3 separate regions of the Homo sapiens genome follow, and regions 2 and 3 are each reported to be linked to region 1. The links are microRNA targets in miRTarBase. Many come from high-throughput screens and were not tested one by one. Region 1 holds a microRNA gene; each other region holds the end of a gene's coding sequence.

Region 1 (3,340 bases):
TACAATGTCATCACATTCACTCTCTTACTGGAACCTCCTAGGGCGCCCAGGAAGTCAGCAGGGCAGGAGTCTTCTCCCCTCTGAACAAATGAGGAAAGTAAGGTTCAGAGAGGTGAGGTGACTTTACTTGCCAAAGACCTATTACTGGTATGGTAGGCTAAATAATGGCCCACAAAGATGTCCACATCCTAACCCCTGGAACCTGTGAATATGACTTTATATGGCAAAAGGGACTTTGTGTATGTAATTAAGTTAAGGATCTTGAAGTGAGAAGGTTGTCCTAGATTATCTGGGAAGGCTGTGAATGCAATCACAAGTGTCCTTATAAGAGGAAGGCAGAAGGAGATTTGGCACAGACAGAAGAAAAAGGGATGTGATGACAAGAGCTCCATGTGTATATCAAGGATTGTGAGTGTAAAGCCTTCAGCACAGGGCTTGGCGCAGAGTCATTCTCTGAGTAGCAGTTAAAGCAATCTGTGCTTGTCACCCCTTTGGTGCCTCTGGGACCTCCTCCGCAAGATACCTTAAGAAAGAGATTGAAACGATGTGCTTTGAAGATGGAGGAGGGGGTGATGAGCCAAGGAATACAGGTGGCCAACCTGAAAAAGGCAAAGTAATGGATTCTCCCCTCAGAGCCTCCAAAAGCATCCAGCCCTGTTGACACCTTGATTTTAGGCCAGTGAAACTGATTTGTTTTGGACCTCTGACCTCCAAAAGTATAATAGTAAATTTGCATTGTTTTAAGCCACTATGTTGGTGGTAATTTGTTATAACAGCAATGAGAAACTGATCCATCTGGTGAGTGGCAGAACTGGGACAGAAGCCAGTCATCTCATCACCCAGGCAAAGGCAGACGCCATCATCTGCTTCTTGGCAAAGTTTCCCAGGGCCTGGATAGATGTGGGAGTGGAGGATGGGAGGACTTCAATAGGAGGCAATGATGGTTCGGAAGCAGGAAGCTAGCTGCTGGAAGCCACCAGCTTGAAGTCCCTTGCTTGAGGCTCGTCATGTGATTATCCGACCGCTTCAAGGAAGGGACTAGGAGCATGGAGGCAGAGGCCTGTCTTTGGCCCCAGAAGCTGGGACGTTTGATCCATTGCTGACTGGGTGAGGGTCCTGCTGATTGAGATGGAGAGTCCTTAGAGGCAAGACTGGACCGATGACTTCTTGAGGTGCTTTTCAGCTCTCAGGTTCTGTCAGTCCCTCTTCATGGAATCCTAGGTGCCAAAAGCAGACCCAGGAAGCCTGTGGCCCTGATAACCCAAGGCAACCTCTGTCTCTCTAAATGTTCCTGTGGAACCGAGTAAGCATAATCCCAGAGGGCAGTTTGGGACAGCTCACACCCTTCCAGTGGCGGTGAAAATTGGTCATTCCCCTTGGAGAGAGGAGGCGCTCTTGGCAATTTTCCAGAGCTCTACCCTCCTTCCTTTGTGCCCAAACAGCTGTGGGCAGATCAGGCTGGGGGTAGAAAGGAATGAATTCTATTTTCTTCCCTCCCTGAGGTACTCCATGTGGTCACAGAAGGCTGCACAGGAAATATAACGGTTGACAGACGTGCGGTGTTTTGTGATGTGAAAATTAAAATCACCAGGAAATGTTCACGTTCTCTCTCTCCTTCTCTCCCCCCCTCCCCTATCTTCCTTCCTCTGAGCCTTTCTCTCTCTCTGTTCTCACTCTTCCTCTGTTGCCTTTTTCCCCCCAGTTCATTTTAAGTCCCTCAAACTTCCTACCTCCAAGAACAACTCTCTAGTTGAGGCTTGGACTTTACAACTTTCACAAATCACTTTGAATCCTTAAGGTGCCTACAGACCTCTCAGTTTGAGCAATTATGGGAGGGAGAACAAAGAATCAGGGTGGGCGAGCTTCCAGCCACCACTGCCATAAAGTTAAGTGACAACTGTTCACTCCCAAGCCTCTGAGTCTGGACAGGTTTGAAAAATTTGTTTTAATCTCAAAAATCTATTCCCAATGAGCAATTAGAAGCCATTTCCTTGAGCTCTTACTATATCCCAAACTTCGGTTTAGTTAAATTTTGTGAGGTTCAAATTTTGCACCTTGAGACTCTACTTTTCTCTAAATTTCACAATTTAGGGATAAGGGTCTGTTTGTATTCAGCACTGATTGGAATGAAAACATCATTGAGCTTGCCAAGCTGAGACCTGGAATACCACAGCATGAGGTTCATATGTTCTGAATGAGCAGGTTTCAGAAAGCTGAGCACTTAGATGGTGAGGCGTGTGACTTGTAAGATGTGCTTTCTGTAGGGACACAGGCCATCCCCACCGCTGCACCTTCAGCATCTGTAAATGGTACAAGGGCTAAAGTACTTGCACGCAGGCATTTGGATTTTCCCCTGTGTATTATTATTGGCGTTATCTAAGGCAATGTCCCTATCTTACTTCATAGGTCAAGAGTATCCCCAGGGCCACCCAGCAATGCCTAGGAATGAACTCCTAGAATGAAAAACACTTTGGGAGATTCTTCTATCAACCTTCCCTTGTTCTATAAATGTGGACACTCAGGCCTGAAAGAGGGGACAGGCCCTGCAACTTGAGATGGCTCAGCAGGACTGGGACTCAGGTCTAGCTCGTACTCTCCACCCCAGGCCTAGATACTTGTCCACTGTGACTACCTCCGGGAGCCAGGTGCCAGCCTGGGAGGAGCCATATCTGTTTTGGAGCAATTGCCCCGGGCATAGCAAAGAAGGGGGTTGAGTATGAGATAGTATAAGGATGGCATGTATCCTTTGGTAAACAACAAATCTTGGGGCTGGAAGGCTGGTCAAAAGTCAGTCTGGAGACTGGTTTTCCACAACAGAACGTGCTGCGAAAGAGTTGTGGGCAAAACTCGGTTTTGAAAATTGAATCTTTAACCCCCCTGGGTGCCATCTATTGCAATCTTATGAGAACTACTTTTGTGAAGCAAAGGGTCTTCTTGTAATGCAAATTTCCACTCCCTAATTGGCCCGGTGTGTAACTTCTATGCCTTCAATTGCTGAAGGGGGCCAAGCCCCTTTGACACCGGTTTTTGTTTTGGTTTAGCACAAAGCAGGTAGGAGGTAGGGTCAACTCGCACCTCCCTAATGCTGCCGCTGCTGCCTCCGGGCGGGAGAAGACCCACCTGGGCTCCAGGGCAGAGCTGGGCCAGCTTATCACCTCCCCTTCATCGCCCTGTGGAGGTCTGCTGCAGAGTAGTTAATCGGGAAGCTGGGAGTGCAGGTGGCACTCTGTGCCACCTGGAGCCATCTCCGAGAGAGTGCCCGCATCCTCCAAGGCTGGAGAGGAATACCAATTGCACGGTTACTGGGCCCCCTCAGGAGCCCACAAGAGGAAATTAAAAG
Region 2 (3,000 bases), not on the chromosome of region 1:
CAGGAGCCTGGGGCCCTGACCTGTACCTACCCATGGGCCCTGCAGCTTCAGCACCTGAAATGCTGTTTTATCCTAGGCCGTGTCCTCTGCCTCCATCCCAGGCGTGGGCGGGAGGGCAGGGGCCCACCTTCATCTCTGCCTTGATGGATTTGTCACAGAAGCTCTTGGAGGTGGGGCATGTGGGAGGGGTGTTGAGAGACCAGGGTGTTGGGTGTTGCGGGCCCTTCCCCAGAGAGGGTGTGAAGGCGGGGCCAGGTGCGGATACTGATGCTCTGCCCCTGTGCCCACAGGTGAGAGGCCCTTCGCCTGCAGCTGGCAGGACTGCAACAAGAAGTTCGCGCGCTCCGACGAGCTGGCGCGGCACTACCGCACACACACGGGCGAGAAGAAGTTCAGCTGCCCCATCTGCGAGAAGCGCTTCATGCGCAGCGACCACCTGACCAAGCACGCGCGCCGCCACGCCAACTTCCACCCGGGAATGCTGCAGCGGCGCGGCGGGGGCTCGCGGACCGGCTCCCTCAGCGACTACAGCCGCTCCGACGCCAGCAGCCCCACCATCAGCCCGGCCAGCTCGCCCTGAGCCCGCCACAGCCATGAGCAGCCGCTCCCACCCCCTCGTGAGTCCCTGGCCTTTCCTTTTGTAATAAGAAAGAAGAGAGAGAACTTGATGCAAAGTCCACGAAAAAACAATTTTTTTCACCTCAGGTGTCAAAGTAAATTTGTTAAAAAAACAAAAAAAACACAAAAATTTCAAAAAACACCACCCACCAAATTGCACAATAGATACACCCACAAAGTTGAGATTCAGCGTTGTTGAACCCCCTTTCTCAGGGATGGACACGTTTCACGAGGTCAGTGAGGACACCCCTTCCTGCCGCCTTACTCTGTACATAGATTTGCACTCTGGAGTTTTCTGTTAGGTTCGGGAACACGCTGGGGACAGAGCAGGCCAGCCAGTCTGGTGGAGCTCAGCGTCTGGCTGGCTGGCCAGCCTGTGGGTCTGTTGGGAGCAGATGTGCTCACTGACGTTTGTGCCTCCAGGGCAGATTCCTAAGCAGCTGGCCTGACCTCTTCCTGCCCAGCCCCCAACCCAGTCTCTGGCCTCTGCCCAACGAGCCTGGCTGGGCTTGCAACGCAGCTGATTCTGAGACAGGCCCCTGCAGAGGGATGCCTTAAAGCTGTCCCTGGCTGGAGGAGCACTCCACCTTGGGGATAGTGGAGGGGGCCTTCAGCCCTCTGCACCCTGCCTGCCTCACACCCCGCCTTCAGGAGCCCTCTCCTACGGCGCTAGGGAGCACTGGAAGCAGAGATGCCAGCCCTGGCTGAGCGTAGCACTGCACCGTCCGACCTCCGAGGCAGGGGCCGGGGTCACACCTGCCAGGACTCCGCTTCTCCGTGTCCCAGCAGAAGGCATGCAGGACCCTGTCACTACTATACCTGGGCCTCTGATGGGGAATTCTGGTCTTCTAAAAAGATGTTAGAAATTCCTGGTGGCACATCCAGTTCCGAGTTTGCCCGCACGGGCACTTTTGTTGGAAACAGTGGGCAGGTCATGGGGCCTCCTCATCAGAGGGTCTGTGTGAGCGGCTGTGCATGTGGCAGCGCACCATGCTTCACAGAGACCATTCTGTAGCAAGAGACCGGAACATTGTGACTTGGACCTTTTCAGGAGTGGCGCGGATGTTACAGGAAATGCTGTCGGAGAGCGCGCATTCTATTTCCTCCGCAGGGAATGCCAGATAGAAAGTTGCGGGCAACACTTTTCTCAGACCCACCATGTCCCCAACTCAGACTTAGCAAACCTCCAGCCTCTCCGTTTCCCCTGGACTCCTCCTCCCTTTTCCTCCTGCTTCTCCTTGTCCTGCCTGGAGGCTCCAGGCCACACCCAGCTGGTGGGGCTGCTCCAGTGCCCCATCACCGGCCTTCTCCTGGCAGGAGAGGAGGAGCAGAGAGCTGGGTCCTGGGCTGGGATTCGAGCCCTGGGCGGGGGTCAGTCAAGCCGTGGTCCAGCAAACTCCTCTGCAGATGGCTGGAGTGTTGACCCAGGCTTGTGGCCCAGGTATCACCTTCCCTTCCTCCTGAGAGTTGAGGCCTGTAAATACAAGGGCCCAGGACAGAGTGTGTGCGTGCGTGTGGGTGTGTGCGCGCGTGAGCACACACGCGTGTGTTGGGGGGGGTGGGGGGATTGGGGTGGACTCAGGGTATCTTGCCAGAGATACCTGTTTTGATGAGTACCTATTTTGATGCAAAGGAACGGCCCTGGGACCTCAGAGGGCCACAGATGGGCTTCCTGGGCCTAGCGTGCCTTGGTTGTGGCCATCCTGCTTCTACTCAGCCCTGCCATGCTATGGGGTGCAGCACAAACCCAGGACCCAGGCCTAGCCACTGCCCACAGCTGATGGTCACTGTTTTGGCTGGCTCCAGAGTGGACAGGTACGCTCTGTCCACAGCAGCTGCTCAGGCACAGTATGCCGTCAGGTGCCCGCTTCTTACCACTGTGTGTCAGCTGGGATTGGCCGACAGCGTGGTGGTGACTTCTAGGTAGACCGATGGACCCTAAATTGGGCAGTGGCATTGTTTCTGCTGTGGTGGGAACTGGCAGGGAGAGGGTCACCTCCACTCTGGTTGGATGCGGAGCTGGTCCCTCTGGCTGCCATGCTGTGTTGGGGCTCTCTGACCTCCCTGCTTGCATTGGGTCTGGGAGAGAGAGTGGAATATTTGGTAGGGACCTTGACAGAAGAGAGCCCTGGGTGCTTGTGGTGCAAAGATCTTCATGCCCAGTTCCAAAGTGAGGTCCCTCCCAAAGTTGTTTTCGTGTGAGGCAGAGAAAGCCACACTCTGAATACATTTTATGTCTCAGGAATTCACATTCCAGGTTCAGGAATTTTATTCCAAAGTCCTTTGGTGCACTCACCGTCCACCGTTCCCCAAGGCAGGGAGAGGGAGTGGCCCGTCCCTGGGAGGCTGGCAAAGTGCTCTCCAGGGAGGGGTCAGACGTCC
Region 3 (3,000 bases), not on the chromosome of region 1:
TTTTCTCCCTACTTCAAAAAGGAGCCGGTGTACCAGCTGCCCTGCGGCCACCTCCTGTGCCGACCCTGCCTGGGTGAGAAGCAACGCTCCCTGCCCATGACGTGCACAGCCTGCCAGCGGCCGGTTGCTAGCCAAGACGTGCTGCGGGTCCACTTCTGAGTGACTGACCTCCACTGGAGGAGACCCATTGCTGGGAGGAGCTGAGGGGGAACAGGAGCAGGGCCACAGCACCCCTGAGGTCTGGCCAGGCCCCAGGCACAGAGCTGCCTGCTCCCTCCCGGGGCTCTTCTTCATCACCTCACGGTATAGCACATTGCTTCTGCGCTGGTGGCAATAGGGCAACAAAGCCATAGGCCAGAGGGCGGGGGGATGTCCCTGCCTCCCTGCCACCCCCCCTGCCTGAGCCCAGGACCCACTGGAGCCAGCCCCACCCTAGGCAGGAAGACCCCTGCTGAGGGCCCCCCCGTGCAGTCCGCATACCCCCCTGTCCAGCAGGGCACTGTGGGTGGCTCACCCTAGATTGTGGCCCAGATCTCAGGAGTCTCTGCCTTCAGGGTCATCCAAAAGTGGACCTTGGGAGCAGTGGGGGTGTCTGTGGAGTGCATGACTCAGCCCCCCGACTCGCAGCCTTAATAAAGCGATGGTTGACGTCTGCTGTGGGTTTCCTCCTGGTGGAGTGCCTGTCTGTGTCACACACTCCTGTCGCCCACCTGCACCCACACAAGTGGAGCTCACAGGGTAGCTGTGTGCAGTCACTGCAGCTTGCCAGGCTGTCATTCCTGTCGATGACCTGAAAGGACACAAACTGGAATTTTCAGGTCTGTCCCCTGCATGGGGACTCAGAACCCAGGTTTGCAGGTGGGCATACGTGGTGGGAGGGTGGAGGGCTCCCTCTGGCCAGTGCCAGCTGTGCTCAGCTGGCTTCAGAAACTGCTCCCTGAGGGGGAGCGCAGCGTTTCCTCATGCAGTTGGTTTCAGGAAAAATACTTGTTTATAGGCTGCATCCTTTTTTCAGCCCAACATTTAGCTTTATGGAGTGCCAAAGGGAAAATATATCCATATCCCTACAACTTGGTACTCTATCAGATTCCAGCCACTAGAAGAACCTCAGTGAGAAAACACACCCGCCTTTCCCTGTTCCCTTCTAAGCACGTTTGGGAAGGAACAGCCTAAAGATGCTTTGTAAAGCTGTATTTTACCCTTGAGCTTAGCCGCGGGTCCCTGTGAACCGGCACATTCCTTTCCTTTAGGCCGTCCAGAGCTCTAGTCCACACCCAATACTTTAGAGATCTGGGTTTGGGGTTAGTTGCTTTTTTTTTTTTTTTTTTAATTGAGACAGGGTTGGTCTCTGTTGCCCAAGCTTGAGGGCAGTGGTGCAATCATAACTCATTGCAGCCTCGAACTCCTGGGCTTAAGGGATCCTTCTACCTCAGCCTCCCAGGTAGCAGGAACTATAGGCATGTGCCACCATGCCCAGCTAATTTTTTTATTTTTTGTAGAGACAAGGTCTTGCTATGTTGTCCAGACTGGTCTCAAACTCCTGGGCTCAAGCGATCCTCCCAAAGTGCTTGGATTGCAGGCATGAGCCACTTCGCCTAGCCAAGCCTGCATTTTTTTGAGTTCCTACATCATTTGTCCACAAAGATGGCTTCAGAGAGGTGGTCACATGCTTTGCTCTGCTTCCTCTTGGCACTGACCTTGATGCAGCCTTCACATGAGATTTGAGGGTCCGCATGGATGGCCTGTGCCGCCCTCGCTGGCGAGGCTCCTGTGTGCCCCTGGCTTTCTGGGTCTGTGCCTCTCCAGAATCTTGTCTTACCCTCCGGTGTGCTTGTGTTCTTAGAAAAGCCCCAGCATGGCCGGGCATGGTGGCTCATGCCTATTATCCCAGCACTTTGGGAGGCCAAGGTGGGTGGATCACTTGAGGTCAAGAGTTCGAGACCAGCCTGGCCAACATGGCAAAACCCCATCTCTACTAAAAATACAAAAATTAGCTGGGCATGGTGGTGTGTGCCTGTAATGCCAGCTACTCAGGAGGCTGAGGCATGAGAATCGCTTGAACCGGGGAGGCAGAGGTTGCAGTGAGCCGAGATCTCACCACTGTACTCCAGCCTGGGCGACGGAGTGAGACTCCCTCTCAAAAAAAGAAAAAAGCCCCAGCATGTAGCAAAAGCATTTCTTGGTGAGTGTGGGGGCTGGTGATTCCCACCTTCACCCTGTCATGGTCTCAGGGAACAGCCTGCTTCCCACCAGCAGCTTGACACCCACAGTGTGCTCTGGCTGCTGGGAGCCCATCTCTCGGAGAAACCCTGTCCACCCAACCCCGAGAGCCCTAGCGTGCAGTCAGCGTCAGCACGGCGCTCCCAGATGAGGGCCGGACTGCCTCCCCTTAAGCAGCTGTGTTGGAGGTACTGCCCAGACCGCTGCAGGTCCCTGGGGATCTGCATTTCTAACAGGCTCCTGCCCCCAAGACTGCTCTGGTGGAAAATCCAGCCTGGGAGCCCCTGGAGTGGCAGGCCCTGTCCTGGGTACAGGTGGAGCCACCCCCAGGAGTTGCGTGTGTTTTTCTTAATTGAAAGACTTCCCCCAAAAGGAAGTGGTCTTTTCACTACCCTTGCCAGAAACATGCTAGGCACCACTGGGCTCTGTTTCTGTCCCCTAGAAAATGGGAATAAAATTTCTTTTGCTGTCACCTGGCTCTGAAGGCAGTTTATTTCTCACTAGAGCCTGGACCCAGGCACAGAACAGCTGTAAACACGCAGAGTTTAAGTCCACGGACGGAGAAGACTCAGGACCTCAGAGCCTTGCTGTGGCCCTGCTGCCCTCCAGAGATCTTCCACCCCCTCCATGACCACAGGGTCTGTGGGCACATGTCTCTTCCCCTTCCTGTGACATTGACTCGGCCCTCTGAACGCAGGTCAGGGCCATGGTACCCCTGCGGTTTGGTGGGGGCAAAGGGGCCCAGGCAGCACCATTCTCCAAATCTCTCCTCCCAAGGTG

The links. The annotated mature microRNA hsa-miR-2114-3p reads CGAGCCUCAAGCAAGGGACUU and lies in region 1 at 985-1,005, opposite strand. An mRNA with a match to its seed (bases 2 to 7 or 8) in the 3' UTR can be bound and repressed. Matches are read on the target gene's strand: a 7mer-m8 pairs with bases 2 to 8, a 7mer-A1 pairs with bases 2 to 7 and ends in A, and an 8mer does both.
Region 2: miRTarBase lists KLF13 as a target of hsa-miR-2114-3p. Seed matches in the 3' UTR shown: 7mer-m8 at 1,869-1,875.
Region 3: miRTarBase lists UBOX5 as a target of hsa-miR-2114-3p. Seed matches in the 3' UTR shown: 7mer-m8 at 1,762-1,768.

The regions. Positions count from the first base shown.
Region 1 is chrX:150,225,717-150,229,056 of GRCh38, reverse strand. MIR2114 (microRNA 2114) reads right to left here and starts at 1,053; the gene lies at 974-1,053. RefSeq lists enhancers at 2,618-3,203, 3,204-3,340.
Region 2 is chr15:31,371,720-31,374,719 of GRCh38, forward strand. KLF13 (KLF transcription factor 13) reads left to right here. Exons shown (of 2, transcript NM_015995.4): 2 at 291-3,000. The coding sequence ends at 580. Among named protein-coding and RNA genes, the nearest start is that of KLF13, 46 kb to the left of the region's middle. RefSeq lists an enhancer at 2,111-3,000.
Region 3 is chr20:3,107,265-3,110,264 of GRCh38, reverse strand. It overlaps UBOX5 (U-box domain containing 5), which reads left to right. Exons shown (of 5, transcript NM_014948.4): 5 at 1-2,692. The coding sequence ends at 159. UBOX5-AS1 (UBOX5 antisense RNA 1) reads right to left here. Exons shown (of 7, transcript NR_038395.1): 1 at 2,694-3,000; 2 at 515-790. Among named protein-coding and RNA genes, the nearest start is that of UBOX5-AS1, 1.9 kb to the right of the region's middle.